Regions from separate parts of the Homo sapiens genome. Here region 1 is linked to region 2. The links come from fine-mapping of genetic effects on plasma protein levels. A gene starts in region 2. The other region holds a variant in brackets. All regions are shown on one strand. Distances are between the middles of the regions.

Region 1 (15,573 bases), 20 kb before region 2:
TACTAAAAGTAGAAAATTTATCCGGGCATGATGACGCCTGTAGTACCAGCTACTTGGGATCCTGAGGCACGAGAAAAATCTCCTGAACCAGGGAGTCGGAAGCTGCAGTGAGCCGAGAGCACGCCACTGCACTCCAGCCTGAGTGACAAGAGCGAGACTTTGTCTTAAAAAATAAAACTGAGCTTTGGAAATTCTTGCCAGGACAAGTTTTCCCTCTCTCAGGGTTAAATCAGTGGTTTCCAAAAAGAAAAAGAAGGAGAAGGAAGGAGGAGGAGAAAGAGGAAGAGAAGGGAGTAGGGAGAAGAAGGAAGAAGAAGGGAAGAAAGAAAAAAAAATCTTTGAGCCAGGGCTGGAGTGAATTCATGACCATTTCTTGAAGTTCCAACCCTTGTAAGCACCCAAAAAAGTGAGGCTATTAATTTTATTTCTGGCAGCACACAGTTCACCCGTCTAAGGAAGATTCCAGAAACTTTAGCACGAGGGCGGTGTGGGTGCTTTGCCATCTCTGGAAGTTCTTATACCTAGAAATAAGAATTGGCCCGGGAGGTTAGAAAATTAATATATTCTGTGGTTGGTTTATTTTTAATAAACCACCATTGTGGGCTCGGGGCGTGGGAGACGGCACAGATTGTTGCTGTTCTTGACGCCCACAAGCAGATGGAAATAAATACTCTAGGTAGGTCATTTTGCAAGACACCCAGTTAAACACTCTGAAGATGTTTTGTCTTTTTCTCCCTGGAAACAAATGTTCCGGGCAGAAATGAAGCTGTTTCTTGCATGTTTTGGGTTGTGTATTAGTTAGCTATTGCCGGGTCACAAGTTACCTTCACATTTGGTGTCTGGGCCAGGTACGGTGGCTCACAGTAATCCCAGTGCTTTGGGAGGCTGAGACGGGGGAGTTGCTTGAGACCAGGAGTTTGAGTCCAGCCTAGGTGACGGAGCGACACTCCTTCTCTCTATAAAAAAAGAGAAGAGGCCGAGCGCGGTGGCTCACACCTGTAATCCCAGCGCTTTGAGGGGCAGAGTCGGGCAGATCACCTGAGGTGAGGAGTTCGAGACCAGCCTGGCCAACATGGTGAAACCCCGTCTCTACTAAAAATACAAAAATTAGCCAGGCATGGTGGTGCATGCCTGTAATCCCAGCTACTCGGGAGGCAGGAGAATCGCTTGCACCCGGGAGGCAGAGGTTGCAGTCAGCTGAGATTGCACCACTGTACTCCAGCCTGGGCGACAGAGAGAAACTGTCTCAAAAAAAAAAAAAAGAAGAAGAAGAAAGAGAAGAAGGAGAAGAAGAAGAAGAACAACAACAACAACTTGGTGTCTTGCAATAACAACAAACTTTTTTTTTTTTTTTTTTTGAGATGGAGACTCGCTCTGTCGCCCAGGCTGGAGTGCAATGGCGTGATCTCCAATCACTCAATCACTGCAAGCTCCACCTCCCGGGTTCACGCCATTCTCCTGCCTCAGCCTCCCGAGTAGCTGGGACTACATGTGTGTATCACCACAGGTGGCTAATTTTTGTATTTTTAGTAGAGACGGGGTTTCACCATGTTGGCCAGGCTGGTCTCAAACTCCTGACTTCAGGTGAGCAGCCCATTTCAGCCTCCCAAAGTGCTGGGAATGCAGGCGTGAGCCACCACGCCCGGCCGGCTCATTTTGTTTTTAAAGGCAGTGATGCACTTGCTCTGTGTTTTCTCTGCTTGCTTTTGTTCCTCTCTCACCCACACTCCATTCCTTTGGGGTCCCTGGGGGCATCTCCAAATTCTCCCCACTGATCCCTCCTCCTAGGTCTGGCCACACCAAGGCACACGACCTCCCCTGACCCGTCCCCCTGCTTCCTCCCCCCACCCCAGCCCAGCGTGCCTGCAGCCCTCTCTACTCCCAACATGGGCCCCAGTGTCTGTTTTGGTCGTATTTTCTCTCCCATCCACAAACGCTGGCTTTGCTTCATCCCCCGTTCCATAAAAAGCACAGAGTTGGCTCTATCTCCACAGACGCAGCAACACACACAGGCACACGGCCGAGAGGCGACGCGGGGATGCCGCCATGGGTCAGTTATTCTCTCCAGGAAAGTAAGCATAGGAAACAGATGGGAAAAAAAGAGGAGACCCTGTCACTTCCCAGAAACAGAGGGGGCCCAGGGACAGGTGGTGGTGGACCCTGGGACTTGAGTTTGATTTGTTAAGGTTGCAATTTTGTGACAAAGAAACGGCATCCAGACCAAGCGCAGTGGCTCCCGCCTGTAATCCCAGCATTTTGGGAGGCCTAGGCGGGTGGATTGCCTCAGGTCAGGAGTTCAAGACCAGCCTGGGCAACATGGTAAAACCCCGTCTCTACTAAAAATACAAAAATTAGCCAAGTGTGGTGGCACACGCCTGTAGTCCCAGCTACTCAGGAGGCCGAGGCAGGAGAATTGCTTGAACCCAGGAGGCGGAGGCTGCAGTGAGCTGAGATCCGGCCACTGCACTCCGGCCTGGGCGAGAGAGTGAGACTCCATCTCAAAAAAAAAAATAAATAAATAAAAATAAAAGAAATGGGCCAGGCGCGGTGGCTCATGCCTGTTATCCCAGCACTTTGGGAGCCTGAGGTGGGCAGATTGCCCGAGGTCAGGAGTTCAAGGCCAGCCTGGCCAACATGGTGAAATCCCGTCTCTACTGAAAATGCAAAAATTATCTGGGCATGGTGGCACATGCCTGTAGTCCCAGCTATTCAGGAGGCTGAGGCAGGAGAGTTGCTTGAACCCCGGAGGCAGAGCTTTCAGTGAATTGAGATCACACCACTGCACTCCAGCCTGGGCGACAGAGTGAGACTCTGTCTCAAAAAAAAAAAAAAAAAAAAAGAAAGAAAGAAAGAAAGAAAGAAAAAGAAAGGAGGCCAGGTGCAGTGGCTCACGCCTGTAATCCCAGCACTTTGGGAGGCCAAGGCGGGAGGCTCACAGGTCAGGAGTTCGAGACCAGCCTGACCAATATGGTGAAACCTCATCTCTACTAAAAATACAAAAGTTAGCCGGGTGTGGTGGCGCATGCCTGTAATCCCAGCTACTTGGGAGGCTGAGTCAGGAGAATCGCTTGAACCCGGGAGGCACAGGGGGCAGTGAGTCAAGATGGCATCGCTGCACTCCAGCCTGGGCTACAGAGTGAGACCCTGTCTCAAAAAAAAAAAAAAGAAAAGAAAAAAAAGAAAAGTCTGCATTTTACTTTCAGAATTGATAGACTATGGTTCCAAAGGGAAAGGGCTGTGAGGAGGGCCCCTGGGAAGCTTCAGACCTGGGTGGCCTCGGACTCATCACGCCCCCATTTGAGTGGTGGAGCGCTCTGCCTGCAGATGGGTGGCCCCAGGACACGTTGTGCTTGGCAGGAGGCCATCCCCACCTCAACCCCTCTCTCGCCCCGTGCATCACTGACCTTGACGAGGGGCCACTACGGGGACATTGCTCCCCGCTGCGTGTGAGGTGCAGCGTGGGCTTGGGAATGTGCAACGTCTCCCGGGAGTGCCGTTTCTCCACTTCATTCCTTTTTTTTTTTTTTTTTTTTTCCCTGATTACAGAGGAAATCCGCTTTAGGAATTAAACACTAAGCCTGTAAATATTTCAGTTCCTATGTCCAAGCTAGGGTCTCTCCTCTTGGGCACTATGGATGTTGGGGCCAAGCCATTCTCTGGGGTGGGGCTGTCCTGGGCATTGCAGGGTGCTGAGCGGCGTCCCTGCCCTTCACCCACTCCATGCCAGGAGCACTCCCTGTCATTATGACCACAGATGTCCCGAGACATAGCCCAGTGTCCCCTGGGGACAGAATCACCCCCCCCCCCACCATTGAGAACAACTACTATTCTTTCTTTTTTTTTTTTTTTTTGTTTGAGACGGAGTGTCTCTCTGTCGCCAGGCTAGAGTGCAGTGGTGTAATCTTGGCTCACTGCAACCTCTGACTCCCCGGTTCAAGTGATTCTCCTGCCTCAGCCTCCCGAGTAGCTGGGATTACAGGCATACACCACCACGCCTGGCTAATTTTTGTATTTTTAGTAGAGCCGGGGTTTCACCATGTTGGCCAGGATGGTCTTGAACGCCTGACCTCGTGATCCGCCCACGCTGGCCTCCCAAAGTGCTGGCATTACAGGCATGAGCCACAGCGCCCGGCCGAGAACTACTACTATTCTAGAGGCTAAGGTGGCCAGGCGTGGTGGCTCACGCCTGTAATCCCAGCACTTTGGGAGGCCAAGGCGGACGGATCAGGTCAGGAGATCCAGACCATCCTGGCTAACACGGTGAAACCCCGTCTCTATTAAGAATACAAAAAATTAGCCGGGCACGGTGGCGTGCGCCTGTAGTCCCAGCTATTCGGGAGGCTGAGGCAGAAGAATGGCGTGAACCCAGGAGGCGGAGCTTGCAGTGAGCCGAGATCATGCCACTGCACTCCAGATGTCAATGATGCCCTTTTGTGCGCACCTCCAGGAATGTCTCTCTTTTTTCTTCTTTTTTAGACGAAGTCTCACTCTTGTCGCCCAGGCTGGAGTGCAGTGGCGCCTTCTGCAAACTCTCTCTCCTGGGTTCAAGCGATTCTCTTGCCTCAGCCTCCCAAGTAGCTGGGATTACAGCCACTCACCACCACGCCCAGCTAATTTTTGTATTTTTAGTAGAGACAGGGTTTCACCATGTTGGCCAGGCTGGTCTCGAACTCCTGACCTCAGGTGATCTGTCTATTGGTGGCATTACAGGCGTGAGCCACGGCACCCAGCCAATTTTTTATTTTTATTTTTTGAGAAAGGGTCTTGCTCTATCACCCAGAGTAGTGGTGGAGTACCGTGGTGCAATCATAGCTCACTGTACCTCCGAACTCCTGGGCTCAAGCAATCCTCCCACCTGGGCCTCCTGAGTAGCTGGGACCACGGGCATGTGCCACCAGGCCTGGCTTTTAAATTTTTAGTAGAGACAGAGTCTTCCTATGTTGCCCAAGCAGGTCTCAGACTCCTGTCCTCAAGTGATCCGCCTGCCTCAATTTCCCAGCCTGCTGGAATTACAGGCATGAGCCACTTCTCCCTCTTTTATGATGAGTTTCTGGGGTTGATAACCGGAACTTGGAAGTAGAACTTCATGCAGAATCATGCTGCTGGCAGGGATTCCAGAGAATACATGCCCCCCTTAAACAGGCAGGGAAACTGAGGCCTGGATGTGCCTGGAAGTGGCCAGCTGGGACTGGAGCCCCGGTCTCCTGATCCCGCATCGGTCGAGGTGGAGTTTTCTCCAGCATAGGATACACCTCTGAGCACCTTAGCAGACGCCCAAAGCACAGCCCAGGAGCCTCGCACTGAGAATTGTGGCCTCAAGTGCTAATGAGGGGGCCAGGCACAGTGGCTCATGCCTGTAATCCCAGCCCTTTGGGAAGCTGAGGTGGGAGGATCACCTGAGGTCAGGAGTTCAAGAGCAGCCTGACCAACATGGTGAAACCCTGTCTCTAGGCTGGGCACGGTGGCTCACGCCTGTAATCCCAGCACTTTGGGAGGCCGAGGCAGGCGGATCACGAGGTCAGGAGATCGAGACCATCCTGGCTAACATGGTGAAACCCCGTCTCTACTAAAAAATAAAAAAAAAAATTAGCCGGGCTTGGTGGCGGGCGCCTGTAGTCCCAGCTACTCGGGAGGCTGAGGCGGGAGAATGGCGTGAACCCGGGAGGCGGAGGTTGCAGTGAGTCGAGATCGTGCCACTGCACTCCAGCCTGGGCGACAGAGTGAGACTCCGTCTCAAACAAACAAACAAATGAAACCCTGTCTCTATTAAAAATACAAAAATTAGCCGGACGTGGTGGCACATGCCTGTAATCCCAGCTACTCAGGAGGCTGAGGCAGAGGAATCTATTGAACCCGTGAGGCGGAGGTTGCAGTGAGCTGAGATCGCACCACTGCACTCCAGCCTGGGCGACAGAGCAAGACTCTGTCTCAAAAAAAACAAAAGAGCTACTGAGGGGCCTGGAGTCCTTCTGCGATTGACGGGTTTTTCCGTCATCAGCTCTGCACCCCTCGGCCTGCCTTAATGCCTCCCGTGAGCCTTCCCACTTTCCCAGCCTCACTCATCCCAGGGGATGGCCAGATGTTTGAGTCTCGCACCGCTGGACACTTAGGTTGCGTCCAGTTTTTTTTTTTTTTTTTTTTTTTGAGAGGGATTTTCGCTCTGTTGCCCAGGCTGGAGTGCAATGGTGCAATCTCGGCTCACTGCAACCTCTGCCTCCTGGGTTCAAGTGATTCTCCTGCCTCAGCCTCCTGAGTAACTGGGACTACAGGCCCCCTACCACCACACCCAGCTAATTTTTGTATTTTTAGTAGAGACGGAGTTTCACCATATTGGCCAGGCTGGTCTCGAACTCCTGAGCTCAAGTGATCTGCCTGCCTTGGCCTCCCGAAGTGCTGGGATTACAGGTGTGAGCCACCACGCCTGGCCTTTTATGACATTTTGATCTAACAACCAATGCTCCATCAGCCCAGAGAGGTCAGGTCCATGAGTGCACCGTCCACCCCAGGGCAGCACAGGTGACGGTTGTGCCAACTGTGTCCCGGAGCATAGCCAGCCATCTTTCCAGCCTCAGTGTCGGCTTCTTTCCTGTCCACCCATTAAGCAACTGTCCCATGTTTTAGATTTGGAGTTATGGCAGAACCCCACTTCTGGTACTACTTTTGTTGTTGTTGAGACAGGGTCTTTGTTCTGTCGCCCAGGCTGGAGTGCAGTGGTGCAATCACAGCTCACTGCAGCCTCAACCTCCCATGCTCACGCCATCCTCCCATCTCAGCCTCCCAAGTAGCTGGGACTACAGGCACGTGCCACCATGCCCAGCTAATTTTTTGTAGAGATGGGGTCTTGCCATGTTGCCCAGGCTGGTCTCAAACTCCTGGGCCCAAGCGATCCTCCTGCCTTGGCCTCCCAAAGTGCTGGGATTCCAGGCATGAGCCACTACACTGGCCTCTGGTGCTAATGTCTGCATTAGTGAAAATGTAACCCACCTCTGCCACTAAGAGAAACAGGGAGGATGCAACGTCACGTGGGGTCAACGTTTCTTTGCCAAAGCTCCTCAAACGCTTTCCCCCAAAGAGAGGCAGACCATGGCCTACAGCATTTCAAATTGTCTTTAATGAAAAAGGAAGAGATCCCAGCAAAGTCTGGGTTGAACAGTCATGCCACAAGGCAAGAACCCACCTCCCGTGTGCCCCCCAGC[C/T]CTCCCCCAGGACAGCCCCTCTGGGGGAGCCACAGGAATGGAAATGGAGCCTGGGTCCCTGGCACTACCATGCAGGGGTCCACTCTGACCCTCAGGGGCACTAGATACTCTGCAGCATGCGGAGGGCGTGGTGAAGGTGCTGTCCGGTGGTGGGGGCGCAGCCGTGGCTCCGCGGGACGTCCAGGGAGTAGGAGGTGCCAGGGGACCCCTGCTCCCAGAGGGTGAGCTGCAAACCCTCACCCTCGCCACTCAGCACCAGTTGGGCCGGGACTCCACTGAAGCTCACCTGCAAAGGGTAAGATACCAGTCAAGGGGAGACGGGTACCCCTGCACCTGCCTCCAGCCGTGGCGCTCCAGAAGGACAAGTGGACACTGGACCCAGAGCCCCCAGTCTGGCCCCTAGTGCCTGCCCCAGCCACAGGAACTCGGGGTCGGGAGGCCAAGTGCTCCACTGTACACCTGGGGAAACTGAGGCTCAGATGGGGGCTCCCCTGCCCACAGTCTTCCAGCAAGACCCTGACTTTTTTTTTTTTTTAAACAGAGTCCTGCTCTGTCACCCAGGCTGGAGTGCAGTGGCGCGATCTCGGCTCACTGCAAGCTCCGCCTCCCGGGTTCACGCCATTCTCCTGCCTCAGCCTCCCCAGTAGCTGGGACTACAGGCGCCCGCCACCACGCCCGGCTAATTTTTTTTTTTTTTTTTTGTATTTTTAGTAGAGACGGGGTTTCACCGTGTTAGGCAGGATGGTCTCTATCTCCTGACCTCGTGATCTGCCCACCTCGGCCTCCCAAAGTGCTGGGATTACAGGCGTGAGCCACCGTGCCCGGCCTTTTTTTTTTTTTTTTTGAGACGAAGTCTTGCTCTGTCGCCCAGGCTGGAGTGCTGTGGCGTGATCTCGGCTCACTGCAACCTCCGCCTGCCAGGTTCAAGCGATTCTCCTGCCTCAGCCTCCTGAGTAGCTGGGATTACAGGAAGGCTCCACCACGCCCAGCTAATTTTTGTATTTTTAGTAGAGATGGGGTTTCACCGTGTTGGTCAGGTTGGTCTCAAACTCTTCACCTTGCGATCTGCCCGCCTCGGCCTCCCAAAGCACTGGGATTAGAGGTGTGGACCACAGTGCCTGGCCCAAAAACGTCATGCATTTTCCATGCTGTGGTTTTGTACGCAGGAGCCAATACCTTTTTTTTTTTTTTTTTTCCTGGGAGGCAAATGCTTCCTAAGGCTCCCCCAAAGCTTGCTCCGTAACAGCCCAGGCAGGCCAGACCCCACCCTGCCGAGCCCCAGTGCCCCGAGTTTGAGCCCCGGGCTCACCTGCACCATCCCATTGCTGAACAGCAGCAGCAGGGCGTGCTCAGAGGCCAGGAAGCGCAGGAGGCAGAGGCCGGGTCCAGCAGGTGGCACAGGTGTGGGGAGGGTCCCCTCCTGTGGACAGACTCGGCTGAGGTCACGTGACGCAGGGGGCGTCCCCACCCCTCGCCCCCACACCCAGCACCCCAGCTCTCACCTCCCGCAGCCGCCGCCGCAGGCAGCCGGCAAAGAGCTGCAGCACGGCCAGCTTGGCGCCCAGCAGGCCGGGCACATCCCTCAGGGCGAAGGCTTCCAGCCTCCCGCAGTTGGGCATGTAGCACACTTGGCTGGGGCCAGGACACAGGGCCTCTGTCCTGGACAGCCCAGGCCAGTGGACACCCTTCCATTGACCTACACCCCCTGGAATGGTGGCTTTAAAGAGCAGCTCTGCCCTAGTTACACCTTATCCATATGCCCAGTGCGGCTCTCTGTCCTCTCTTCACCTCAGCTGACAGCTGGTCCACCCTTCCTGCCTTCCAACTCTATCCACACTGCAGCCCCTCTCATCCCTCCCCGGTCACCAGCACAGCCCAGGCCTCCGCCACTGCCCACCTGATGAGTCCAGCCACCTCCCCACTGGCCCCCATGTCACTCCCGCTAGAAAGATTGTGTTAAGGCCGGGCGCGGTGGCTCACACCTATAATCCCAGCACTTTGGGAGGTCCAGGTGGGAGGATCACCTGAGGTCGGGAGTTCGAGACCAGCCTGGCCAACATGGAGAAACCCCGTCTCTACTAAAATTCAAAATTAGCCAGGCGTGGTGGCGGGTGCCTGTAATCCCAGCTACCCCGATCCCGGGATGGGGAGGTTGCGCTGAGCCGAGATTGCACTCCAGCCTGGGCAACAAGAGCACAACTCCGTCTCAAAAAAAAGAGACAGAGTCTCGTTCTGTCACCCAGGCTGGAGCGCAGTGGTGCAATCATGGCTCACTGGAGCCTTGACCTCCTGGGACCAAGTGATCCTCCCACCTCAGCCATCCAAGTAGCTGGGACCTACTGATGCATACCCTTGCAGTTGGCTAATTTAAAAAAAAAAAAACTTGGCCAGGCGCGGTGGCTCACGCCTGTAATCCCAGCACTTTGGGAGGCCGAGGCGGGCAGATCACGAGGTCAGGAGATCGAGACCATCCTGGCTAACACAGTGAAACCCCGTCTCTACTAAAAATACAAAAAATTAGCCAGGAGTGGCTGAGCGCGGTGGCTCATGCCTATAATCCCAGCACTTTGGGAGGCTGAGGCGGGTGGATCACCTGAGGTCAGGAGTTCGAGACCCGCCTGGCCAACATGGAGAAACCCCGTCTCTAATAAAAATACAAAATTAGCCAGGAGTGGTGGCGGGCACCTGTAATCCCAGCTACTTAGGAGGCTGAGGCAGGAGAATGGTGTGAACCCGGGAGGTGGAGCTTGCAGTGAGCCGAGATTGCGCCACTGCACTCCAGCCTGGGTGACAGAGTGAGACTCCATCTCAAAAAAAAAAAAAAAAAAAGAAGAAAATTTTGTAGAGAAAGGTCTTGCTGTGTGGCCCAGGCTGATCTCAAACTGCTGGGCTCAAGTGATTCTCCCACCTCAGCCTCCCACAGTGCCAGGATTACCGGTGTGCACCACCACGCCCAGCTAATTTTTAATTTTTTTGTGGAGATGGGGTCTTGCTATGAGGCCAAGGCTGATCTCAAACTGCTGGGTTCAAGCGAGTCCGCACCTCAGCCTCCAACGTGCCAGGATTATAGGTGTGTGCCACCACACCAAGCTAATTATTAAAATTTTTGTAGGGATGGGGTCTTGCTATGTTGTCCAGGCTGATCTCGATCTCCTGGGCTCAAGGAATCCTGCCTTGGCCTCCCAAAGCACAGGGCTGCCGCTTGTCATTCACGTCACTTTCTCAGAGACCCCTTCCCCTTCCCCCTACCCACACTACTGAGATTCACCTCCCCTCCTAATCTGCCTCTTCACTGGGTTCATTTACTACAGAAACGCACTTGCTGATTCGTTTAGTGTTGTTCTCCCCGACCAGGCAGGGAGCACCTGTAGGTGTGCACAGTAGGTGCTTAATAAATACTTGAGAGATGAATGAAAAAAGGCAGGGGGAGTGCCTGGTCCCCCAGGGCACAGGAGGCCACAACTTACCCTCCGGGGGGTCGCAGGGCCATGTGGGTGCCGTCCCGTGCGCCCCCCGTCCAAGAGCTGGTAGCCAAAGCCGTATTTGCTGGAATAATCCACCCATTTGGGGGCCCAGAGGATGGGCTGCTGCTCTCCCAGGGGGTCCTGTGTGGCTGGGCACAAACAAAGGTATGCTGAGCCAGGGGTCAGGGGTCAGGCATATAGTAGGCACTCAATAAATGTGATGGACTGAAACCATGGGTGAGACCCTTCCCACGGCGGGGACCGGACAGAGGCTTGGGGGCTTCGGTGGTGGATTCTAGGAGACCAGACATCAACAGAAGCCACGGAACCGTAACTAATTTCTGGCTTGCAGAGGGAGACTGTGGGATACTGGCGCACCCCTGGGAATGAGCAATTCTCAAATACTTGCAATGCTCTGAAAATACTACACATTTCTGGGTGTGTGTGTTTTTGTTTGTTTTGTTTTGTTTTGTTTTTTTGAGACAGAGTCTTGCTCTGTCCCCAGGCTGGAGTGCAGTGGCGCAATCTCGGCTCACTGCAACCTCCGCCTCCTGGGTTCAAGCGATTCTCCTCCCTCAGCCTCCTGAGTAGCTGGGATCACAGGCACGTGCCACCACACCCAGCTAATTTTTGTGTTATTAGTAGAGATGGGGTTTCACCATGTTGGCCAGGATGGTTTCGATCTCCTGACCTTGTGATCCACCTGCTTCAGCCTCCCAAAGTGCTGGGATGACAGGCATGAGCCACCACGCCCTGCCCCGTTTCTGGGTTTTTGCTTGTTTGTCTGTTGGCTTTTCAGACAGGGTCTCGCTCTGTTGCCCAGGCTGAAGTGCAGTGGCACGATCTCAGCTCACTGCAGCCTCCACCTCCGAGCTCAAGTGATCCTCCTTCCTCAGCCTCCTGAGTATCTGGGACAACATGCATGCACCACCATGCCCGGCTCATTTTTTTGTAGAGATGGGGTCCTGAGGCTGGGCGCGGTGGCTTATACCTGTAATCCTAGCACTTTGGGAGGCCGAGACAGGCGGATCACGAGGTCAGGAGATCGAGACCATCCTGGCTAACACAGTGAAACCCCGTCTCTACTATAAATACAAAAATTAGCCGGGCATGGTGGCGGGTGCCTGTAGTCCCAGCTGCTGGGGAGGCTGAGGCAGGAGAATGGCGTGAACCCGGGAGGCAGAGCTTGCAGTGAGCCGAGATCACGCCACAGCACTCCAGCCTGGGCGACAGAGTGAGACTCCGTCTCAAAAAAAAAAAAAAAAAAAAAAAAAAAAAAAAATGCGCCCAGGCGTGGTGGCTGACGACGTCTGTAATCCCAGCACTTTGGGAGGCTGAGGCGGCCAGATCACCGGAGGTCAGGAGTTCGAGACCAGCCTGGCCAACATGGTGAAACCCTGTCTCTACTAAAAGAATACAGAAATTAGCAGGTGTGGTGGCACACGCCTGTAATCTCAGCTACTCGGGAGGCTAAGGCAGGAGAATCGCTTTGAACCCAGGAGGTGGAGGTTGTGATGAGCCAAGATGGCACCATTGCACTCCAGCCTAGGCAACAGAGTGAGATTCCGTCTCTTAAAAAAAAAGAAAGAAAAGGAAAAGAAAAGGCTTCTGGGCTGGAGACCTGGCGTGGGGTTTGGGGCTCCCTCTCTAAGGGTGGCAGTATGTGTGGGTCAGTGGAGGCTCAGGGAGAGGAGGGGAGAGGAAGAGGGTTTGGGTTCTGGGACACTGGGGATAAGAGGGGTCCCCCTTTGGAGTGTGGCCTGTGGGCACAGGGCTCTGTGTCCAACGTCCCAGGTCACGTTTCCTCACTCACTGGGTCTCTAACGAGCCCGGGTCATGAATTTAAGAGACCGTGAAACGTAAGGCTGCCGCAGAGCCCTCCGTGCCAGGCTCTGCACACAGGAGGGCTAACCCACTCTCCTGATGTCACCGTGTCCTGGGGCCTCCCTCACCCCTACTCCTCACCCCCAGAAATACCCAGGAGGGCCCAGGATGGGAATGAAGGCAATTTTACTTGGCTAGTAAGAGTAAAGGTGATCCTGGGGGCTGGGCCGGCTCCTACCCGGGGGGCCTACATCCAGGCACAGCTGCAGGTGTCTGAGGGCCGCCTCCACCTCTGGCCGCCGGCTCCCCTCGGGCCCTGGGAAGACAGGTCTTTGTGCCGCAGACAGGTCTGGGTTCCCACCACCAGGCTCTTCCAACCAGTCCCCCTCCCCACGGCTCCATCCAGGAACATCTCATCCTCAACCCAGAGGCGGCATTCCCATTTGACAGGCGGGAAAGGTGAGGCCGGGACGGCGGCTGTGACCCTGGTAAGCCACGGCCTTGGTCCCCCTGTCACTTGTAATTCCTCCCTCCCCACCTGCAGCCCCGGGCTGGGACGGGGATCTGCTCACCGGCCAGGTCACTCTGCAGGGTCCCTTGTGCGACCAGGTGGATGGGGCCTTCCAGGCAGGGAACCTCTTTCGCAGACAGGGAGCTCTGAGGTGGGAGCAGCAGGGGTGGGGGTGGCCCCGGCCCCAGCCCCAGGGACAGGCGTGAGGTGGGTGGCAGGCTCTGGCCCCTGCCTGTGCCCTCCGTGCTCTGCACACAGAGGCACTGCTTTCCCCTTGGGAGGCAGCCTCGGAGTGTCTCGGAGGCATACAGTAGGTGCTCAATAAATGTGATGGACTGAAGCCATGGATGGGACCCTTCCCATGGCCTCGAGCCCGGCCCTTGGGAAAGCCCAGGTGGGCACATTTGGACACAAATGGATCCCAGCTCTGATGCGTCAGGACGGGACTAGGGGGAGGGGGCCGGGCTTGGAGACCCCAGAAGGGGTTCAGAGAAGCCGGCATGGGGGAGGGGGTTTTAGCAGGGGCCAGCATGCCCTCCACCTGTGTCTCCCCGTGTCCCCCACCCCGATGTCTCACCTCGCCGTCCCACTCCATGGAGTCAGGGTCTGGCCCACCTTCTCCTGGACCCGAGGCCTCTTTAGGCGTGAAGGGGCCTGAGGGAGGCACAAGGCCTTGGAGGGGGCACAGCCTGGGCCCCAAGCTGGGGGTAGGGGGGCACCTGCCACCCACACCCACCCCTGATGTGGAGACAGAGCGGAGCAGGTGGCAGTTGTGGGCAGGTGGGAGGTGTGGGCAGGCGGGAGGTGTGGGCAGGTGGGGGCAGGTAGCAGGCGTAGGCAGGTGTGGGCAGGTGGGAGGTGTGAGCAGGTGGGAGGTGTGGGCAGGTGGGAGGTGTGGGCAGGTGGGAGGTGTGGGCAGGTGGGGGGCGTGGGCAGGTGGGGGGCGTGGGCAGGTGGGAGGCGTGGGCAGGTGGGAGGCGTGGGCAGGTGGGAGGCGTGGGCAGGTGGGAGGCGTGGGCAGGTGGGAGGTGTGGGCAGGTGGGAGGCGTGGGCAGGTGGGAGGTGTGGGCAGGTGGGAGGCGTGGGCAGGTGTTGGGCAGGTGTGGGCGGGGGTGGTACTTACAGGGTGGCCGGCACTGGGTGAGCAGCCGCTGGCCCACCTTCCGGAAGATCCTGCCCAGAGGCGGGGGTATGGCGAAGATGGGGGGACTGTGGCAGGAGTGGGCCGGCAGCCGGTCTGGAGTGAAACCCTTTGGATGGGGATTTGGGGTTATCCCCGGCTTAGGTCACCCAGCCCCTGAGCACCTGGGTTACCTGGGACAGGGCGGGGCCTCCCTCGGCTGAGCAGGGCAGGCTCTGGCTCATCACCTGCCAGGGACCCCACGCCAGGGACCCCACGCCGAGGACCGCCGCCCACCTGTGTGAAGAAGTCGTCCTGCAGCAGGTGGTCCAGGCTGGGCCGCTCGGCCGGGTTGGGTGCTAGGAGGTGCACGATGAGGCGGCGCGCATTGGCAGACAGGTGAGCGGGTTCGGGGTAGTGGCCCTCACGGATGTTTTGGTACATCTCCGACAGGGGTGAGGCCATGAAGGGTGGGGTGCCAGTCAGCACCGTGTACCTGGGCCAGGTGGGGGGCAAGAACCTGGGTGTCCAGGCATCGCTCAGAGCTACCCCTGCACACTTGGCCAGACCTGCCTACACAGCTTAGCTGTGCAACCCATATCGGCTTCCTCATCTCCCAACATCCGCCTGCACCTAGCACCCTGTGCAGTCCCATGCACGCTGCTTGGTGGACACCAGCGTCTGTCCATCCCCTGCCTGCACCTGGCACCCTGTGCAGTCCCATGGACCCTGCTTGGTGGACACCAGCGTCTGTCCATCCCCTGCCTGCACCTGGCTCACCCTGAACTCACCTGCATACACCTTTTCAATGCTTCTATTTTTTTTTTTTAAAGACAGGGTCTCATTCTGTCACCCAGGCTGGAGTGCCGTTGTGCAATCACAGCTCACTGCAGTCTCCACCTCCTGAGCTCAAGCAATCCTCCCAACTCAGCCTCCTGAATAGCTGGGACTACAGGTGCACACCACCACTCCTGGCTAATTTTTGTAATTTTTGTAGAGACAGGGTTTCACCAACTTGGCCAGGCTGGTCTTGAACTCCTGGGCTCAAGCGATCCTCCTGCCTCGGCCTCCCAAAGCTCTAGGATTACAGGCGTGAGTCACTGCGCCTGGCCTCCACCTTCCAATGCTATCCCATGCCTGCTCACACCTGCCCTGCGCCCACACACGCTGTATCCCTGTACACATACGCCCTGACCTGCCTGTGCCACTGCCACCTGCCCACACCTGTCCACCTCTCTGTGCACACCCTCCCCCGTCCTCCCTCACACACGCCTCCCCACACACGTCCTGTTCATACTGCACACTTGGCGACAGGTGCCTGTTCCACGCGCCCCACCCTGCACAACGGTCCCCACCTGTTCCGTGCAGGCTCCCCCCCCGCCACACCTGCCCCCCCCGGAGGCCCTGCCCACCTTCTCCAGGACCCCACTCACATGATGCAGCCCAGAGCCCAGATGT
Region 2 (15,573 bases):
GTAACTTGTCCCTGAGGCAGGTGCTGTTCTTAGCCCTGTGTTACAGATGAGGAAACTGAGGCTCCGAACGTCCGGTGCCAGCCCAGGATCACCGCGGACTGCATGTGGCTGAGCCTGGAGTCTAGGTGGGAGTGAATCCAGAGCTCCTGGTCCCCCCACAATAGGTCTGTCCCTCTTTCAGGCTGCCAGCCCCAGCAGTCCCAGGGAGCAGTGCCAGGCAAGGCCCTCGTGCTGAGGCGGGTGTCTGAGCTTCCTAGGGGGAAAGAAATCAGAGTTCCTGGCCCAGAGCCTCGCAGCCCGCCTGTCAGCTGATGCTCCTTGCACAGAGACCGGCTCGCCCTCCCTCTCCCCTGGCCGCCCGCGGCTTTTCCTGGCTGAGACTCCACTATGGAGCTGGGAAAGGCCTCCTAGTCCCAGCCTGTGCCCCTCTGAGCAGGGACTCTGTCCCCCAGCCTATGTGAGCCCTCCTAACCAGCTGTCCCCATCCCCCGCCCTGCCCCAGGCTGGCTGCTCACCACAGCCTTGCCCCAGGGGAGTTTTGGGGGGCTAAGGATGAATGCCCCCAAAGACACCCCTCAGCTCTCCCTGAAGGCCTCTTACACAGATTAGGGGATGGGGAGGGACTGCTGTTGGGTACAAGTCTCCTTTTGAGGATGAACTGTTTTAGAATTAGATAGAGGGGGTGCTTGTTCAACACTGTGAGGGCAGTAAATGCTGCTGAATTGTGCATTTTAAAAAGGGTAAATTTTATGTTATGTGAATTTCACCTCAAAGGTTAAAAAAAAAAAAAAAAAAAAAGAATTGGCCGAGCCCTGTGGCTCACACCTGTAGTCCTAGCACTTTGGGAGGTCAAGGCAAGAGGATCACTTGAGGTCAGAAGTTCGAGACCAGCCTGGCCAACATGGCGAAGCCCTGTCTCTACTAAAAATACAAAAATTAATCGGGCGTGGTGGCTCACACCTGTAATCTCAGCACTTTGGGAGGCCGAGGCGGGCAGATCATGAGGTCAAGAGATCGAGAGCATCCTGGCTAACATGGTGAAACCCCGTCTCTACTAAAAATACAAAAAATTAGCCGGGTGTGGTGGCGGGTGCCTGTAGTCCCAGCTACTCGGGAGGCTGAGGCAGGAGAATGGTGTGAACCTGGGAGGCGGAGCTTGCAGTGAGCCGAGATCGCGCCACTGCACTCCAGCCTGGGCGACAGAGCGAGACTCTGTCAAAAAAAAAAAAAAGGGAAAAATATATTAGATTCCCTACCCCCTAAAACACATAGTCCTACTAATGCCCCAGTTTACAGATGGGGAAACTGAGGCACGGCTTGTGTGATGAGCACAGGATGCCGTTTTGCAAAGGGGCAGGGCAGGGTTCAATGGGGCCACCTGGCCCTCCCATCCTACCCCCTGCCCTGGGTTCTTGAGGCCTGGGTGGTCTAGCACTGCAGCCCCTGTACCCCCAGCACCTCTCACATCCCAGACCACAGGCTCGATTTCCTCTCCAGTCTCTGTTCTTTTGCTGACCTGAGAAAACCACAGACTCAGCGGATTTTGCGGAGAAGTGCCGGGAAGCTTTGCTCAAAATACCTACTGCAGGTGGAGGCGTGGCAGCTGAGACAGCAGGCACCCGACTCCCTGGAGGCCCAGGAGGCTCATGGGGCTGCCTCCGAGGTCAGCGGCGGCCCAGGCCTCCCCAGCACCCTCCTTCCGGCAGGCGCCAGGGTGGAGGCCACCAACCAATGTGACTCAGCCCAGCTCCCTGGTCCCTGCCTGGTCTCCTGGCCTTTACCAAGCACCCGTGGGTCTCACGTGCCTGGACGCCTGACCACGCAGGTGCCCAGGGACCCATGGCCCTGGGAGCAGAGCAGGCAGGAGACGTACCACCACCACAGGGCTCCAGAGACCCCCACTGATTGTGGTTTATGCTGCACGACATGGCCCAGTGTGAGCGCAGGAGGGGGCGTCCAGACTTGGTGCCCCGAAACCAAGCCCTGTTCTTCCCTCTCTCAACTCTGTTTCCTCCTAAAAGCACTGTTGTCCAGATGCAGGGCTCATGCCTGTAATCCCAGCTACTCTACTCGAAAGGCTGAGGCAGGAGGATCCCTTGAGTCCAGGAGTTTGAGACTAGCCTGGGCAACACAGCGAGATCCCCTTCTCTACAAAAAATAAACAGTTAGCCGGGTGGAGTGGTGCACGCCTGTGGTCTCAGCTACTTGGGAGGCTGAGGTGGGAGGATTGCTTGAGCCCAGGAGGTTGAGGCTGCAGTGAGCTGTGATGGCACCACTGCACTCCAGCCTGGGTGACAGAGCAGGACCCTGTCTCAAAAACAATAATAATAATAATTAATAATAAAAGTGGCCGGGCGTGGTGGCTCAGGTTTGTAATCCCAGCACTTTGGGAGGCCACGGCGGGTGGAGCACGAGGTAAGGAGATCGAGACCATCCTGGCTAACACTGTGAAACCCCGTCTCTACTAAAAACACAAAAAATTAGCCGGGTGTGGTGGCGGGCGGCTGTAGTCCCAGCTACTCGGGAGGCTGAGGCAGGAGAATGGCGTGAACCCGGGAGGCGGAGCTTGCAGTGAGCCGAGATTGTGCCACTGCACTCCAGCCTGGGAGACAGAGCGAGACTCTCTCTCAAAAAAAAAATTAAAAAAAAAAATAATAATAATAAAAGCACCGTCCTCTCTTGTCCTCTGGGACACCCCTGCTCCTGATGTTTTCCCATCTTTTTTTTTTTTTTTTTTCAGATGGAGTTTTGCTCTTGTTGCCCAGGCTGGAGTGCAATGGCGCAATCTCGGCTCAGCACAACCTGTGCTTCCCGGGTTCAAATGATTTTCCTGCCTCAGCCTTCTGAGTAGCTGGGATTACAGTCATGCACCACCACATCCAGCTAATTTTGTGTTTTTAGTAGAGACCGGATTTCTCCATGTTGGTCAGGCTGGTCTCGACCTCTCAACCTCAGGTAATCCACCCACCTCAGCCTCCCAAAGTGCTGGGATTACAGGTGTGAGCCACCGCGCCTGGCCCCTTCCCATCTTTCTGGATGCATTTTTCCAGTTCTCCTTTAAGCCACCTCCTCCTTCTCCTGGGAGCCTGGGGTTCAGTGTTGGGGCCTCTCACCCACTCTCTTCACTTCCTCCACTGACATTGTCCAGGTGGGTGGCTTTAGCACTGGCAGCTGGGGCAGGTTACTCAACCCTCCTGGCCCATCTGTGTGGGTTCCCCCAAAGGCAGAGCCTGAAGCAAGGCTTTAGTGCAGAGAGTTGGTTCAGGGAGCAGGGTGGGAGCTGGGTACCCCCGGGGCACCCTGAGTCCCACACTCATCAGGCACCCTCTGAGGAACTGAATACAACATTCCCCAGAGTTGACCACCCAAGATGAGGACACAAGGCCAAGACATCAACCTTCTGGCCTTCCCATTTGTCCTCAGACGCACACCAAGCTCACCCTGCCACAGGGCCTTTGCATGTGCTGTTCCCTCTGCCACCCTCCCAGACTTTGCCTGGCATCCTCTTCTTAGCTTTTAGGCCCAGGCAGGAAAGGGCCACCTGTGCCCAGGAGGCCGCCCCTGCCCCAAGATGCCCTAGACGTGATCCATGCCTGCTTCTCCCCAGTTCCACCACAACCCAGAATGATGGTTTCCTTGCTAGCTTGCTGGTGTCTGTCCCACCTGACAGGGAGCGCCAGTGGCAGGGAGAGGGTCTGTATCTCCATTAGGTGCTGGGTGGACACTCAACCCCGTGCCCCTTCTCTCCATGGACGCAGCATCGACTTCCCATCAGGGATACTCATCAACTCCAGCCGTGTTCAAGGTGCTGCATGGGCATCAGAACCCACCCGATTACCACAGAAATAATCCATTTTTAATCTGCATGGGTCTTTTTACTAATTATGAGACAAATAGTTCAATGTCTTATGGAATCCAGGAACAGAAAAAGGACATTTGTTTAAAAAAAAAAAAAAAAGGCTGGGTGCAGTGGCTCGCGCCTGTAATCCCAGCACTTTGGGAGGCCGAGGTGGGTGGATCATGATGTCAGGAGATCGAGACCATCCTGGCTAACACAGTGAAACCCTGTCTCTACTGAAAATACAAAAATTTAGCCAGGCGTGGTGGCACACACCTGTAATCCCAGCTACTTGGGAGGCTGAGTCAGGAGAATGGCGTGAACCCAGGAGGCAGAGCTTGCAGTGAGCCGAGATCACGCCACTGCACTCTAGCCTGGGAGACAGAGCAAGACTCCATCTGAAAAAAAAAAAAAAAACAAAAAAACAAGCCTGGTGAAATCCAAATCCAAATAAAATAACATTTGGAATTTAGTCAATAATCATGAAATAGTAATTGTTATCACCTTTTTTTTTTTTGAGACGGAGTTTCGTTCCTGAAACCTTGTCTCTATAATAATAAAAATTTTTTAAAAATTCTAAAATAAGGTTGGGAACAGTGGCTCATACCTGTAATCCCAGCATTTTGGGAGGCCAAGGTGGGAGGATCACTTGAACTCAGGAGTTTGAGACCAGCCTGGGCAACGTGGCAAAACTCCACCTCTACTAAAAATACAAAAATTAGCTGGGTATAATGGCACTCACCTGTAGTCCGAGCTACTTGGGAGGCTGATCCCAGAGGATTGCCTGAGCCTGGGAAGCAGAGGTTGCAGTTAGCCAAGATCGCACCACTGCAGTACAGCCTGGATGACAGAGCGAGACCCTGGCAAAAAAAAAAAAAAAAAGTAAGAAACTAAAAATTGCTAAAGTGAAAAAAAATGGATGAATGCCTTCAGATGAGGCTCAATCCAGGAACTCAAACAACCTTCTCAGAAATCTAGACTTTTGGGCTGGGCACGGTGGGTGGCACATGCCTGCAATCTCAGCAGTGTGGGAGGCTGAGGCAAGAGAATCACTTGAGTTCAGGAGTTCGAGACCAGCCTGGGCAACAGGGGGAGACCCCCAACTCTACAAAAAATATAAAAATTAGCCAGGCATGGTGATGCATGTCTGTAGTCCCAGCTACTTGGAAGGCTGAGGTAGGAGCATCTCTTGAGCCCAGGAGTTTGAGACCAGCCTGGGTCGGGACAACATAGCAAGATCCTGTCACTACTAAAGATCAAAAAAATTAGCCAGATGTGATGGCATGCATCTGTAGTCCCAGCTACATGGGAGGCTGAGGTGGGAGGATCGCTTGAGCCCAGGAGGTCAAGGCTGCAGTGAGCTGTGATTGCACCACTGCACCCCAGCCTGAGCGACAGAGCAAGACCCTGTCTCAAAAAAAAGTAAAAAAAGAAAGAAAAGGACAGAAAGATAAAAAGAAAAAAAAGAAATCTGGCCCCTTCCATTTGCTGCCGTCTGTCAGCATCTGCTTGAGACAGTGCATCTCTTCGAGCAGTCAAGAAAGTCCAGCCTACCTCAACTCACGCCATCCCTGGAGCCCACCCCAGCCACGGGAAACCACCTTTTCCTCTAATGGCCCAGTTCAAGTCCCAGGGCAGGCTCTCATTGGCCCACTTGGGTCACATGGTCATCCCCCAGCCAATCCCCGTCTCTAGGAGATGGAATTATCTGTTTGGCCAAGCATGGGTTACGTCATACACAATGGAGGAGGTGGGCCAGTCCACCTGATCCACGTCGCCTGAAAGTGACAGAACAGGTGGTTTTCAGCACGTGAAGGTGGAGGGGAAGGGGCACCCTGGGGAGGCCATGTCACAGGCCTGGAGCCTGGGCAGTGGGGTAAGAAAGCAAGAGGTCTCTTCCAGGAATTCTGGACGGTGCCCGGGGCACTGGGTGCCTGCAGGGAACAGATTCCGAGCGTGCACAAGAAACCGGCACAGAATGAGGACCGGGCGAGCAGCGGCCAAGGAGGGTCCAGGGCCCTGAGTCCCATGGGGTGACTCCAGCCGGGGAGGGTCCCAACTCTGCGTGGCCCCTGCTGGTGCCCAGGAACAGACGGACAGCCCCAGGGACCGGGGGGTCCAGGGGTCTGTGGGGCAGGGATGGGGAGGCCCCACCCAGTCCACGCAGGAGGTTGAGGTATCCTGGGACCACCGTGTCCTAGGTTTTGCATTTTTAGTAGAGACGGGGTTTCACCTTGCTGGTCAGGCTGCTCTCGAACTCCTGACCTCAGGTGATCCACTGGCCTTGGATCCCCAAAGTGCTGGGATTACAGGCGTGAGCCACCGTGCCCAGCCCAGTGTCTGCAATTTGATGAGTTTGCACATATGCAGTCACCACACTCAAGATGACAGGCCTACCTGTCACTTCCCGAGGTCCCTTGTGTCCCACTGTTTTTGTTCTTTTATGGTAAGAACCCTTACCATGAAATCTACCCTGTGAACACAGTTTGAAGTGTGGGGTACCATACTGTTCACTGTAGCCCAGTCACACAGCAGATCGCGGCATTCCTTAAGCCTCAAGGCCATACAACCATGAAGGAAATGGAACCTAATTGATCCACATCCGCCGGGACCCGCGTCTCAGTCTCCCCTCTAGCCCTGACGCTGCCTCAAGGAGGGGGTCCAGGCTGAAATTCAGAGTAGGGGGACTCGGCTGATTCCTGGGTCAGGGTCCAGGCAAGGGCAGGGGAATGTAGTAAGCTGGGACCCCGCCCAACTGGGACCCCAGGAGCCTCTGAGCCTCAGCAGCCACCCCCTCCACCTACACCGGGTGTCTTAGGCTGAGCTCCCAGCCTCCTCCTAGGGACATCCAGAGGACAGAGGTGGGAGACGGTAGGGGACAAGAACTGGGGGTGGGGGGCAGCCCTCCACATCTTCACCACCACCTCTGCCAATCTTGCCAGCTCTAGAGCCCCCACGCAGGGTGCAGTGGCTGCGGTATGCACTCCCAGGAGGGAACAGGGGCTGCGGGGTACACTTTCCATAGAACTCAGTGCCTACTGTATGCGCTCCCTGCAGGAGACAGCGCCTTATGTATACCTTCCTTGCAGGATGCAGCACCTGCTGTATACCTTCCTTGCAGGATGCAGCACCTGCTGTATATACTCTCTACAGGATGCAGTGACTGCTGTATGCACTCCTCTGAAGGTGCCATATCTACTGTATACACTCCTTTGCAGGGCAGAGTCTACTCTATGCATTTCTACAAGATGCAGCACCTGCTGTATACCCTTCCTGCAGAGCATAATGCCTGCTGTGTGTGCTCCCTGTGGGCGCTGTGCTTTCTGTATACCTTCCCTGCGGGGCACAGGGCCTGCTGTCTGCACTCCCAGTGGAGCTCTGTGGACTGGACATCTGGGAATGGGGCACATCTGAGGAGGATACAATTGTCCTAATGACACATTGACACATGTCCTGAGCTGACTTCTTTCTTTCTTTCTTTCCTTTTTTTTTTTTTTTTTTTTTTTTGAGACGGAGTCTCGCCTGTCTCCCAGGCTGGAGTGCAGTGGCGTGATCTCGGCTCACTGCCACCTCTGCCTCCCGGGTTTAAGCGATTCTCGTGCCTCAGTCTTCCGAGTAGCTGGGATTACAGGCACTCACCGCCATGCCTGGCTAAGTTTTATATTTTTAGTAGATACTGGGTTTCACCATGTTGTCCAAGCTGGCTTCAAACTCCTGACCTCAGGTGATCCGCCTGCCTCGGCCTCCCACAGTGCTGGGATTCCAGGCATGAGGCGCCGCGCCCGGCCTGCCCTTCTCTCTTGACCCCTTCAGTGAGGGCCTTCTTGACATCCCCGCAACCACCACCCCCCAACCTGGGGCCATCAGTGGTGGGCCTGGGCTATTTTCTCCAATAGTCCAGGTCAGAAGGTGGGGGGTCATACATTCCAGGGGGCTGCCTTACCCGCTGGCCTGGGACTGGCTGGGTTGTTCACAGCTGTGCACACAGTAGGTGCTCAATAAATGGCATATGGGTGGCTCTGCTGACATGCTACAGGCTGGAGGGCAGACTGAGTTGGACCAGCAACACCCTGTATGTCCCCAGCAAACCTCTCTCCCTGTGGTCAGCGCTGTGGGACAGCAGGGTGGGCTTCCTGGAGGAGGGGGTGCTCAGACCGAGCCTGGGTGGAGCCCAGGGAGCAGGACAGTCCCTCCACCCCCTCCTTTAGTGCCCCAGTCCCTCAGCCCGCCCGCCAGGGGGCGCCGTGGGGCGACACCAGAAACTGGTGGAGCCCAGAACCCAGGGCCTGGTCTCATCCCTGCGTGGGTGGGCACGGGGCGGCTCACAGACGCCCGGCGGGAAAGGGTGGGGTGGGGGGAGTCCCGGGGTGCCCCCTCGCGTTGCCGGTCCGCGCAGAGCCGGATTCCAGATGGAAGGTTCGCGGTGGAGATCCCTGCCGGGCCCACTGCTGGGATGGGGAAACTGAGGCCGGAGAGGGTGTGGCCGCGGCTGTGAGGGAGAGGGACCGCCTGGACCCGGGTCTGGCTCTGAAGCCCCGCTGGCAGCCCCGGGGCCCGGCAGGGAGGGCGGGAGGCGGGGTGGGGCGCGTCCCCTGGTGACAGCAGCGCCCGGGAATGCGCCAGCTGGGAGGGTCTCTCCGCCCCCCGCGCGCGGCCCACGGGGCCGAGCCTCTCCCCAGTGCGCTGGGGCCCTGCGCTGGGGGTGACCGGGACCTGGGTCGGGGAACCCCCGGATGGGAGCCCAGGCGCGCCAGGGTCCCCATCCACGAGCAGGTCGACCCCCCGCGAGAGGGGTGAGGGGCAGGACCAGGGGAGGGGGCTGTGACCGGGGATGGGGACGCCGGTGGGACGCAATCCGGGCGTCGGCGGGGTAGGGGCAGCGCCCGGGACTCCCAGACCCAGGGCGGGGTGACCTCGGTTCGCGCACATTCCCGGGCCCTGAGCGCGGCGCCCGGAATAGCAGCCCCGGGGCAGAGGAGGGCGGTCAGTCCCCGCGCCGCGCCCCCGCCCGAGCCTGCCAAGGTCACCCGGACCCGGGCGCCCGACACCAGCCTGCGGCTCCGGGACCCCTGCGCTCGCGTCCGCCGGGCAGTCCCCTGCCGCAGATCCGCGCCCGCCGCGCGAGGGCGCCCGGGGCCGCCGCCCCTCCTGACCCGGGCCTGGGCGCGCCTGCGGAGGCCGCGGTGGGAGGGACCGTCCCAGGCTCCCCACCCCGCCCAGCACCTTGGGCCCCGCCGCTTCCGCTCGCCCTGGGGCCGCTCAGGGAGCCGGGACGCGCTGCCTGGGCTCCGCGCAGCCGGTAAGTCCATCTGCCTATCCTCCCACTTTCTCCGGGGGAAACTGAGGCCCAGAGGTGCGGCTTGCCTTGAGATCCCTCCGCCAGTCCGGGCTGCAGCCCACACGGGGAGGGGAGAGCCTTGATTCTGGGCAGGGCCCATTGAGGAGGGGGTAGGGTGGTCCTTGTAGCCCCCCACTTTTCACCACCTAGACCCCCACTCCTCAAACCAGGCTTAGAGTCCGGTGGGGGTGGTCAGAAGGTCAAGCCCCCTCCCCCTGTTTTTTTTGGTTGGTTGGTTGTTTTTGAGACTGAGTCTCACTATGTCGCCCAGGCTGGAGTGCATTGGCCCCATCTCGGCTCACTGCAACCTCCGCCTCCTGGGTTCAAGCGATTCTCCTGCCTTAGCCTCCCAAGTAGCTGGGATTACAGGTGTGCACCACCACACCGGGCTAATTTTTGTGTTTTAGTACAGATGGGGTTTTACCATGTTGGTCAGGCTGGTCCCAAACTTCTGACCTCAGGTGATCCGCCTGTCTTGGCCTCCCAAAGTGCTGGGATTACAGGCGTGAGCCACCGCACCTGGCCCCCCTCCCCTTGTTTTAAGTTTCTGGTGCAGACTTCTTCCTGCTTCCTGGGCCAGCCCAGGCTCTAGGCTCAGAGAGGGGCACGGATGCAGCAGACCACACAGCTGTCTCAGTACCTAGAGATACCCAGGACCCTAGACCCTTGGTGCCTCAGAAGTCCAAATGCTGGAGCCAGGGAAACAGGGTCCAGGTGGGACCCAGCCTCTTCCCCAGCTGGTGCCCGGGCCGGGGCTCACCCACCTGCCTTCAGGCTCTGCTGGCAGCAGGACGCCCTGGCTCACTTGGCGGCTGCTTCCCTTCCCCCCTCTTTCCCCCTGCAGGCTGGGGTCATGAGGAGGGTGTGGATGGCAAGTGACTTCATCCCTGCCCTGACAGGATGGAGAAACTAAGGCCCAGAGAGGCAGTCAGCCTCCTCCCCTTCCCTGCTCCAGCCTCAGCAGTGGCCCCTTCCCTCCACGGGCTGCCCCGGAGCTCAGTCCCACCCCCTCCGCCGATGAGGCCATGAGGCACCGAACGGACCTGGGCCAGGTCACCCCCTCCCTGTCCCATCCCCAATCCGGGGGACTCCCTGCTGTCTGGGAGCTGAGGGAGCCCTGGGGCCGGGGTGCAGCTGAGGGCCTCTTCTAGGGACCCAACTCCTGATCCAGCCCCTGCCGGCCGCACCTTCCGCAGGGTGTCACAGAATCATGGACTGAGTCCACTTGGCCCCCACTGCACAGATGGGGAAACTGAGGCCTGGGAGAGTGGAGTGGCTGGCCTCAGGCCACACGGAAAGGTAGAAGCAGTGATGGTGGGGAGGGCGGGGAGGGGGCCCCAGCCCTAGGAGGCACCTGTGTACTATTTTTGAATGATCCCTCCAATCATCAAGCATCGATTAAGCACCTACTGTCTGCATTATAGCACAATACACATATCAATAATATTGTAGGCTGGGTGCAGTGGCTCATGCCTATAATCCTAGCACTTTGGGAGGCCAAAGCAGGTGGATCACTTCAGGTCAGAAGGTTGAGACCAACCTGGCCAAGATGGTGAAACCCTGTCTCCACTAAAACGGCAAAAATTAGTCCGGCGTGGTGGCAGGCACCTGTAATCCTAGCTTCTCGGGATGCTGAGGCAGGAGAATTACTTGAACCGGGGAGGGTTGCAGTGAGCCGAGATCGCACCCCTGCACTCCAGCCTGGGCGACAGAGCGAGACTCCGTCTCAAAAACAAACTAACTAACAACAATAATAATTGCAGATGACATTCTGAGTTCTTCCTCTCCATACCGGGCTCCACGTCTCCTGTCTTCTTTACCTGATCCACAGGACCCCTCAACTTTCCTGTAAGGGAGGCTCTATTACCCCGTTTTTCAGAGACGAGAGGTAGGGCTCAGAGAGGTTTAGTTACTTTCCAAGATCACACAGCCAGTCAGGGCAGAGCCGGGACACAACCCTGTGTCTCTGGCGGTGGCTCTATGGACTCGGCCCCTCTGTTCCCCAGGCCCCACCTCTTCCAGAACCTCCTGCTCTTCCTGTGGGCCCTGCTGAACTGTGGTTTGGGGGTCAGTGCTCAGGTAAGGGGGGGCATGAGCCCAGGGGGTGGCGAGTGGGAATGGGGACCCAGTCAGCAGTGTGGGGTCACCAGCGTCCCCCTACAAGGCTGACCGTGCCTCTGTCTCCCCAAGTAGGGTCCGGGCGAGTGGACCCCGTGGGTGTCCTGGACCCGCTGCTCCAGCTCCTGCGGGCGTGGCGTCTCTGTGCGCAGCCGGCGCTGCCTCCGGTGAGCGGGGCCCGGAGGGGGTCCCTGCCCCTCCTCCCCCGCCGGCCCAGCCCGGCCCCTGGCCGCACCCTCGGCCTGCCCACACATGCTGTGCCCTTTAATCCCCCTGATCCCGCTGGAATGCGGGTGGGGTTGGCGGGGGCGGAGGGTGGAAGGCCAGCCCTGGGAGGGGGTCCCTGGGGGTTCTCGCCACACTCTGTCTCCCTTCAGGCTTCCTGGGGAAGAACCGTGCTGGGGAGACTCCCATGAGTACCGCCTCTGCCAGTTGCCAGTAAGCCCTGCCCACCTCCCAGACCACTCTCCCACCCCAGACTGCCTGAAGCCCACCACCTGCCCCTTGGGGTTGTCCCAGCCTCTGGCTCACCTATCTCTGTCCCTAGGACTGCCCCCCAGGGGCTGTGCCCTTCCGAGACCTACAGTGTGCCCTGTACAATGGCCGCCCTGTCCTGGGCACCCAGAAGACCTACCAGTGGGTGCCCTTCCATGGGGGTGAGTAGTCTGGTCTCCTGTGGTCAGAATTGGTCCAGAGCGAACAACTCATTAGTCTCAGGGAGAGGGTCTTGGAGGGTTGCAAAGAGAAGAGGGTATTAGTGCTAGGGCTTTGAAGGATATGTAGGAGTTAGTGAAACAGAAACAGCATATGTTAGGCGTGAAACAGGGGCAGAGGGAAGCAGGGTTCATTCTGCACAGGGCTGAACACCCAACTAAGGATTGACTTAGAGCTGTATCCAGAGGCCAACACTTCTCAAACTTATCCCAGTAGCAGGAAATGTTGCTGCATTGAGCTGAAAATAGCGAGTTATATAACTACGTGCCCGGGTCAGTGCGCCTCCAGATTTCAGGGAGACAGGCAGCTTCACACGCCATGGGGAAGGCAGACACAGATATAAGAAAAGCCTAGAATGGACAAAGTGCCATCCATCAACCTCATTTCCTTCCTTCCTTCCCTTTCTTCCTTCCCTTCCTTCCCTTTCTCCCTTCCCTTCCTTCCTCCCTCCCTCCCTCCCTCCCTCCCTTCCTTCCTTCCATCAATCTGAGAATTGGAGGAAACCTGCTGTGATCCCACCCCCGCAGAGGCCCACTAGGGCCAGCCCAGGATCCGTTCCAGGCAGGGTCCACCAGCCAGGCTCAGGGAAATGGGAGCCAGAAGGAGCTGGAGAAGGAGGAGTGGAGATCAGGGCTGTCGGCCTTTGTGTTTGATCAGACAGCTCATTTTGCCCCACTTCCAGGCAGAAGGGGAAACTGAGGCCCAGGGAGGACCAGCGACACAGCTCAGTTGTGCGGGACTCAGTCCAGTCAGTACTGGACAAACACTTCATTGGGTACTTGCTGGTGCCTGGGCCAGATGCTCAGATCTTCTTTTTTTTTTTTTTTTTTTTTTTTTGAGATGGAGTCTCGCTCTGTCACCCAGGCTGGAGTGCAGTGGCATGATCTTGGCTCACTACAGCCTCCACCTCCCTGGTTCAAGCGATTCTCCTGCCTCAGCCTCCGGAGTAGCTGGGATTACAGGCTCCCACCACCAAGCCTGGCTAAATTTTTATTGTTGTATTTTTGGTAGAGACGGGGGGGTCTCGCCATGTTGCCCAGGCTGGTCTTGAACTCCTGGCCTCAGGAGATCTGCCCACCTCAGCCTCCCAATGTGCTGGGATTACAGGCATGAGACACCACACCTGGCCTTTTTTAAGGCCATCCATCTGCACACTGATTGAATTCTTGCTTCTGTATCCTAGAGCTTGGAACAGTGTCTGGAAAACAGTAGGTGTTCAGTGGAATGAAGAATGAGTAATGGTGTTAAAAATGAATAATATGTAAGGACTCCTAATATAAAGACAATGAATGAATGAATGAATGAATGAATGCAGCCCCAGGATACTTGCCTGCGAGTCCCAGGTTGCTGGACGCAGAGCACCTACGGTCCAGTCCTGGCTCTGCCTCAGCCTCGATGTGTGGCTTTGGCCAAATCTCTGGGCTTCATCTGCCCAAAGTGATGGTTGCCTGATGAAGCTTGGTAGAGGGGGACTGGAGCTCGAACAGGGGTCCCCGGCCCACCGACTCCTCCTGCCCTCAGCGCCCAACCAGTGCGACCTCAACTGCCTGGCTGAGGGGCACGCCTTCTACCACAGCTTCGGCCGCGTCCTGGACGGCACCGCCTGCAGCCCGGGTGCCCAGGGGGTCTGCGTGGCTGGCCGCTGCCTTGTAAGGACTCGTCAGGCCCCGCCCGAGCCCCGCCCACCTCCCACTCAGGCCCCACCCATCCTAGGCTCCACCTCCGCCCTCCTCCCATTAGCCTCCACCCCCTCCCTAGGCTCCACCGCCTTCCCCCTCCCCTTCCAGGCCCTGCCCCCAGCCCCCCTTAGGCACCCACTCCCGGGCGCCAAGCCCATCCTCCTCCCGCCAGGTCCTGCTCCTCCCTAGGCTCCACCCCCATCTTCCCTCCAGGCCTCGTCCTCTTGCTCCCAGGCACTGCCCTTTCCCCAGGTCCTGCCCCTCCCAGCGTCAGTGACGCCGCGCCTGTCCTTCACCCTTTAGAGCGCCGGCTGTGATGGGTTGTTGGGCTCGGGTGCCCTCGAGGACCGCTGTGGCCGCTGCGGAGGCGCCAACGACTCGTGCCTTTTCGTGCAGCGCGTGTTTCGTGACGCCGGTGACTACCTGCCCCGCCCTCCCTGCACACACGTCAGAGTGGGCCCTTTAACGAGCCGTGGCCCGGAAGCAAATTTCCGTGCTGATTGGCCAGTGTGCGGCCCAGCCCCCCTTTCTCCTCATCCTGATTGGCTACTGACAGATTGTCCCGCCCTTCCCCAGGACAGATGGGGTTTTAACCCTTTCCCTGCCACACTGAAGCAATAGTAATTGTAACTCCAAACGTTTACGGAGGGTTTTCCGGTTCCCAGGACCCTGGCTAGCTGTCTTACCCGCAGTAGCTCATTAAATCCTCAAGTCATCGCTCAAATACACCCCCACTGGCACCCCAACACCCTCCTACCCTCCCACCCAGGTGCCTTCGCTGGGTACTGGAACGTGACCCTGATCCCCGAGGGCGCCAGACACATCCGCGTGGAACACAGGAGCCGCAACCACCTGGGTATCCTAGGATGTGAGGCGAGAGGCACCCGGCTGGGCACCCGGGGGCGGTTGTCCCTGTTTACAGATGGGGAGACTGAGGCCTGAGGAGGGGACCCCAGGGTCTGGGAGACGAGACGACAGGTTCCTGAGGGCTGACTGTTCCCTTGCAGCACTGATGGGGGGCGATGGGCGCTACGTGCTTAATGGGCACTGGGTGGTCAGCCCACCAGGGACCTACGAGGCGGCCGGCACGCATGTGGTCTACACCCGAGACACAGGGCCCCAGGAGACATTGCAAGCAGCCGGGCCCACCTCCCATGACCTGCTCCTACAGGTGCCACTGGGCCTCCAACAGGGTCAGAGGGGGTCGGCTGGGGACAGAGGGGAGAGGCTGGGGACAGAGGGTAGGAGTGGAGGTGACTGGGGCCAGAAGGGGGAGTCTGGGGTCAGAGGGGAGAGGCTGGGACAGAGCATCAGAGGGGGGAGGGTGGGGACAGGGTCAGAGGGGATCAGCTAGGGACAGAGCATCAGAGGAGGGAGGCTGGGGGCAGACAGGATCAAAGTGGGGAGGCTGGGGTCGTAGGGTCAGAGGCAGGAGGCAACCCCAGCCTCCTGTGAAGCTCCCTGTGTCCCCTCCCCTGCTCCAGGTCCTCCTGCAGGAGCCCAACCCTGGCATCGAGTTTGAGTTCTGGCTCCCTCGGGAGCGCTACAGCCCCTTCCAGGCTCGTGTGCAGGCCCTGGGCTGGCCCCTGAGGCAGCCTCAGCCCCGGGGGGTGGAGCCTCAGCCCCCCGCAGCCCCTGCTGTCACCCCTGCACAGACCCCAACGCTGGCCCCAGGTGAGGTGGGGACAGCCAGGGTGGGGGATGAGTGGGGACTGAGGCCTGTGCCCCTCACAGCACCGCCCATCCCACAGACCCCTGCCCACCCTGCCCTGACACCCGCGGCCGCGCCCACCGACTACTCCACTATTGCGGCAGTGACTTTGGTGAGACCCCCGACCTCTACCCTGACTTAGCCCCTACTAACCTGGCCTCCTCCTGACCTCTGA

Evidence for each region. A credible set is the group of variants that fine-mapping cannot tell apart. PIP is the chance, under the fine-mapping model, that this variant and not a neighbour inherited with it causes the effect. Protein levels are from antibody-based Olink assays in UK Biobank. Linkage for the fine-mapping came from a reference panel and not from the study's own genotypes, which makes the PIPs less certain.
Region 1: its variant is the best candidate, but not a certain one, in a credible set for the plasma level of the ADAMTSL5 protein (UK Biobank, PIP 0.53).

Annotation. Positions count from the first base shown.
Region 1 is chr19:1,526,974-1,542,546 of GRCh38, reverse strand. It overlaps PLK5 (polo like kinase 5 (inactive)), which reads right to left. Exons shown (of 14, transcript NM_001243079.2): 6 at 15,549-15,573; 7 at 14,413-14,611; 8 at 14,119-14,245; 9 at 13,573-13,649; 10 at 13,057-13,141; 11 at 12,723-12,800; 12 at 10,664-10,809; 13 at 8,506-8,616; 14 at 6,501-7,482. The coding sequence starts at 15,550. The coding sequence ends at 7,297. Among named protein-coding and RNA genes, the nearest start is that of PLK5, 11 kb to the right of the region's middle. The variant C/T (reference allele first, on the strand shown) is at 7,197.
Region 2 is chr19:1,506,527-1,522,099 of GRCh38, reverse strand. It overlaps ADAMTSL5 (ADAMTS like 5), which reads left to right and starts at 9,081. Exons shown (of 12, transcript NM_213604.3): 1 at 9,081-9,137; 2 at 10,940-11,255; 3 at 11,370-11,461; 4 at 11,672-11,732; 5 at 11,842-11,950; 6 at 13,530-13,657; 7 at 13,991-14,102; 8 at 14,457-14,543; 9 at 14,695-14,858; 10 at 15,172-15,361; 11 at 15,439-15,510. The coding sequence starts at 11,157. LOC107985337 (a long non-coding RNA gene) reads right to left here and starts at 4,698. Exons shown (of 3, transcript XR_001753835.2): 1 at 4,581-4,698; 2 at 3,664-3,808; 3 at 1-253. LOC124904609 (a long non-coding RNA gene) reads right to left here and starts at 14,108. Exons shown (of 2, transcript XR_007067084.1): 1 at 13,984-14,108; 2 at 12,986-13,436. RefSeq lists silencers at 7,968-8,047, 8,887-9,256, 13,983-14,182 and an enhancer at 13,507-14,356.